Linked DNA regions of Homo sapiens: region 2 is linked to region 1. A link means that fine-mapping ties the variant in region 1 to the expression of a gene that starts in the linked region. Tissue or cell type: whole blood. Region 1 holds a variant in brackets; the other region holds the start of a gene. All regions are shown on one strand. Distances are from middle to middle.

What was found. PIP is the estimated chance that this variant, and not a neighbour inherited with it, causes the effect.
Region 2: LRIG1 starts here. The variant in region 1 is fine-mapped to the expression of LRIG1 in whole blood (INTERVAL, PIP 0.95).

The regions. Positions count from the first base shown.
Region 1 is chr3:66,303,646-66,306,328 of GRCh38, forward strand. All of the region lies in intron 5 of SLC25A26 (solute carrier family 25 member 26), which reads left to right. Among named protein-coding and RNA genes, the nearest start is that of SLC25A26, 84 kb to the left of the region's middle. The variant A/G (reference allele first, on the strand shown) is at 1,325.
Region 2 is chr3:66,499,918-66,502,600 of GRCh38, forward strand. LRIG1 (leucine rich repeats and immunoglobulin like domains 1) reads right to left here and starts at 1,105. Exons shown (of 19, transcript NM_015541.3): 1 at 273-1,105. The coding sequence starts at 490. RefSeq lists enhancers at 201-701, 702-1,202 and silencers at 305-514, 535-614, 655-794, 815-1,474.

The sequences.
Region 1 (2,683 bases):
GCAGTAGATGATTGTTAGCTTTCTGTTGCTGTGTAATGAATTACCACAACTTTAGTGGTTTAAGGTGACATATATTGATGATCTCATGGGTCTCTACAGCAGCAGTCTGAGGACCGCGTGGCTGAGTTCTCCATTCACTGTTTCACACAGTGACAGTCAAGGTGTTGCAGGGACTGTGATCTCATCTGAGGCTAGGGTCCTCTTCCAAATGCACAGGGCGGTTGGCAGATGGCATTTCCTTGTGGCAGTATGACTGAGGATCCTGTTTCTTGTTAGCGATTGGATGGTGACCACACTTTACTTCCAGAGGCTGCTCTGAGGTCCTTGCCATGTGGCCCCCTCCATAGGCCCTTTTACAACATGAAATTTTATTTCTTCAGAGCCAGCAGGAGAATCTCTCACACTTCAGATCTTGTTAGGAAGGGGCTGGTTTTTCTAAGAACTCACCTTTGAAGTCAAGCCCATCCACGATAATTTCCCTCTTGATAAACTCAGAACCAACTGATGGGGGAACTTAATTAAATCTGCAGAATCCATTCATATTTCTGATTAAATGTAACTTCGTCACAGGACTTGTCTTTGTCCTGTTCACGGTCCCATCCACACTGGATGGGGGAGGATTATACAGGGCGGGTACATCAGGGAGTGGGAATCTTGGGGGCCTCCCACAATGCCTCTTGATTTAAAAAGATTCTGGAGCATACTTTTTCTTATGTCTCATATCTAAGCTAATATCTTCCCTTTTCTGTTCAGTTTCAGTTTTGTGTTCACATGTCTGTTGTCATATTTTTTCTTCTATTTTTGCAGGAGGAGGATTAGAGTCAAAGGTGTGGGGAGGCTTGTGAGCTTCTGTGAGTTGTTGTGTGTGGCTTGTATACATGCTGTTATACTGGTAAGCTCTGTAACAACCCCTGATTGCTGAACATGCTAACTGGGATATACGCTACATGGTTCACTGGTGCTTTCAGGAAACCATCGAGGTGTCAGGCATTGAGGATTCGTTGTTCACTAATACATTCTTTAAAATGCTTTTAGAATCATTATATCCAGTTTCCTTTCTCTCTGTACATGGGACTGATTAACCACCATGTGGGTGGAAATCTAATTTGTTGCTGGCTCAGAACTTTGCAATTTTCAATACTTTGCAGAATTATCCTGTTTACCAAATGAATTGTGATAAAAATTGATACATTAGTATTAAGAGGATGACTTATAACATGTACTATGATTTATAGGGCCAAAAAGACCTGATAAACTCACAACCATTTTACCCCATAATGTTAAGAAACTCAAAAGATTTTGTCACCAAAAAGTGTATCTTGTG[A/G]TTTATTTTTTATGACACGGTAGTATCACTTGTTAGAGTTCTGAGATTCTTTATTAGCAACTGACAGTTTTCTAGGAACTGAATTTTTACACTTAGAGCTGCGAAAAGCCAAAAGCATTTCTAAATGATCTCCATCCCATTCCCCTCAAATAATAATGTACACGCTCATTATAGTTTGTTAGTTTCTCATGCCTTTCTTTGGTGTTCTCATGGTTGTGAGAAGTTGGGAGAAGCAGCGTCTAAATTTAGGAAATGGATTTCTTTTCTGTTACTAAGTACATTGCTATAATTTAAAGACAACAGGAGAACATGTCTTTTATCTCAAATGGGTCTGCTATTTTTCTTCTAAGGTGTTTCTCTAAGAGTAACATTATGTAATTTAATCAGTGTTATAAAAAATGGAATTCCTGGTTAGGATTTTAAAAGGTGATGTTAACAGATATCAAATTTTTTATATTAGGGATTGAAGGACTTTTATTTATTTATTTCATTTTAATTTTTAAGCTCCAGGATACATATGTAGGATATGCAGCTTTGTTACATAGGTAAATATGTGCTATGGTGGTTTGCTGCACCTGTCAACCCATCACCTTGGTATTAAGCCCAGCATGCATTAGCCATCTTTCCTAATGCTCCCCTTCCCCCCACCCCACCCTGTGAAAGGCCCCAGAGTGTGTTGTTTCCCTCCCTGTGTCCATGTGTTCTCATTGTTCACTTACAAGTGAGAGCATGTGGTATTTGGTTTGGGTTGATTCCTTGTCTTTGCTATTGTGAATAGTGCTGCAGTGAACATACATGTGCGTGTGTCTTTGTAATATAATGATTTATATTCCTTTGAGCATATACCCTGTAATGGGATTGCTGGGTCAAATGGTATTTCTGGTTCTTGCTCTTTGAGGAATTGCCACCCCATCTTCCACAATGGTTGAACTAATTTACATTTTCACCAATAGCGTAAAAGCATTCCTGTCTTTCCTCAACCTCGCCAGCATCTATTGTTTCTTTCTTTTTTTCTTTTTCTTTTCTTTTTTTTGAGATGGAGTCTCGCTCTGTTGCCTAGGCTGGAGTGCAGTGGCACTAACATGACTCACTTTAACCTCTGCCTGCCAATTTCAAGCAGTTCTCCTGCGTCAGCCTCCCGAGTAGCTGGGACTACAGGTGTGCACCACCATGCCCAGCTAATTTTTTGTTTAGTAGAAACAAGGTTTCACCATGCTGGCCAGGCTGGTTTCAAACTCCTGACCTCGTGATTCACCCACCTTGGCCTCCCAAAGTGCTAGGATTACAGGCGTAAGCCACTGCGCCTGGTCTGTTTCTTAACTTTGTAATAATTGCCATTGTGAATGGCGTGAGACGGTA
Region 2 (2,683 bases), 200 kb after region 1:
CCCAAATCTCTACGACCCACGCTCGCTCGTCTCCAGACCCCACGAGGCACGCTCTTCTTCTCCAGGCTCTCTCGCACGCCTACTCCCCCGGACCTCCACGCAGAATCTCCCTTCCGCCACTCCAACCTGACAGTCTTCCAACACGCACAAGCACGCACAACTCCACACACACAACCCAGTCCGCACCCCCTCCCTGAGTACGAACCCCCGCCGCTCCATCCCCAAGTGACAGAGCCCCGGGGCGCAGAGAGGGCGGAAAGGGCGGCACTCACAGGCTCCGCGTCCAGGAGGGCAGGTCCCCGGGCAACGCAGCCAGCCCGCGCCCACCGCAGTCCAGCGAGTCCCCAGCGCAAGTGCAGGCGGCCGCGCAGGGCGCCCGCGGGCCGGCCGCGGCGGTCACCGGCTCCAGCCGAAGCAAAAGCAGCCAGAGAAGGAGAAGGCAAGGCGAGCGGCGCGGGGCCCCGAGCCCTCCCCGGACCGGCCGCGCCATCTTGTCTGGAGCGCGCTGCGAACTCCGGGCGCGGGGACTGTGAGGACCCGAACGGCCGCAGACGCGGGCGGGCCCGCGGGGCGCTCCGCTCGGCTCTAGACTCCGCACCGGGGCATGGCCCCCGCCCCAAGTTCTCTCTGCGGCCGCGGCTCCGGCACTCAGCGTGCCCCCGGTGCCCGGGCCGCTCCGGAGCACCCGGCGGGGGCCGCAAACCCCGCGCCCATCCGGGCCGGCCGGCCCGCCCGCGCTAGCTGCGAACTCCGCCGATTCGGGCAAGGTGTACCCAGCCTGCGCTCTTCGTCCGCCCGGGGCACGCCGAGTGCCGCTACCGACACCGGCCGAGGGCAGTGCTGCCGCTGCGCCTGGAAGACAGGCGTTCAGCCCCGCAGCCCGAGCTCGGTGCCGGCAGGCATCTTCCTCTGGGCTCGGAGCGCAAAGCCGTAGACCTCGGGCTGGACGGCGCGGCCGGCCCCGCGCTGGGAGGCCCCAGTGCGCCTCGCTGTCCCCACGCCGCGGCCAGAGAGCGCGCGCGCGCGCGCAGCCTCGGGTTCCGCACGGCTCCTCCGCGCAGCAAGAGTCCCGCCGACCTCGCAGCCGAACAATCAGCCGCTTGCTGTTCGCCTCCCCGCGGCCCAGCCCCGGCCGGTCCCCCAAGCCCCGCCCCCGGCCGCTCGCCCGCACACACCCCCTAGGCTCCGCGCTCCGCGGCCGCCTGCTGGCCCACGTTGGATGCTTTGCAACAGCGCCCCGCCACGCCTCCCCGCCTGCTGCTCATTGGCTGCCGGAGTCCACCGTGGCCAGCCTCGAGGGCCATTGGAGCGCTCGCTGTGATCCCGCCCCTCCCGCTTCACCGGCTACCCCGCCCCCACACTCTTTTCCCACCCAAGGTGTGAAGGGCGGGAGACTGGGAGGAGAAAGGGAGGGACGGCCCCCGCCTCTTAAAGGAGACACGCAGGTTGTTGTTGGAGAACGGGAACGCGGGCTGGGGAAAGGAGGCGTGAAGATACGCCCTCTGCGTCAAGAAGGGGAGAGAAAGTTAAGAGGGTAAAACGCCCCCGTTTTGGGGCTGTCTGGCCCCAAGGCTTTTTACGTCCTCCTCAGGCTGCAAGCAGGACTGCAGATTAGAAGCAAACCCGCGTCCGTTTTCCAGGTTCCTTCCAAAAGCGAAGACACAGGTTTAAAACTTAACACATTTCTTCCTGACTGGGACATCCTTGGTTATTTCATTAGGCGTGGTCCCCTTCCTCCTCGAGCAGCCTGGAGCATCTGCTCCTGACTTGTTCTTCACGTCCTAAATCCAGCAATATGTCCTTGATTACTAAAATGAATGTGTGCTGCAGAAACCTAGTCTCAAAGGTGCACCCTCGGCCAGGAGTGGTGGCTCACGCCTGTAATCCCAGCAGTTTGGCAGGCCAAGGCGGGCGGATCACCTGAGGTCAGGAATTCGAGACCAGCCTGGCCAACATGGTAAAACCCCGTCTGTACTAAAAATGAAAAATAAAAAAATTAGCCAGGTGTGGTGGTGCACACCTGTAATACCAGCTACGGGAGGCTGGGACAGGAGAGCTGCTTGAACCCCGGAGGCGGAGGCTGCAATGAGCAGAGACTTGTCACTGAATTGTCACTGAATTCCAGCCTGGGTGACAGAGCGAAACTCCGTCTCAAAAAAAAAAAAAAGTGCACTCTCCTTCCCAGCTAGTGAGTTGAAGGGTACTTCTAGAAATGCTGCAGCCTTTGATAAAGGGGTTGCTTTGTTGTTGTCATTGGGTTTTTGTTTTAATCAGAGTCTTTTTAAGATAATTTTCAAGAAGCCATTGTGTATTCGTAAGAGACAGAGTTAAAGGAGAAATAATAGTTAACAAAGCTTCTAACTTTTGCTCTTAAAGATCAGACCATAGTAGTAGTGTGTTACGATAGTACGTGGTAACATTAAGCAGACATACACACATTGAGAAAAAAAGAAAAAGATTACCACTGTAACATATAGCTGCCCTCTGGGCGTTTTGGTTTGCTAGTGTCTCATATCCCTTCCCAAGAGTATGCAAATTACTAACATAACTGCGCACATTGTCAGGAAGATTAAGCAGGTCAAGTCTGTTGAAAAACATTTGCTCCAGAACATTAAATCTGAGTTGTGTTTTATGGAAGTGGGGTGGGGTGGGAGGTAAAGAGGAGAAGTTGAACCTTAGGGAA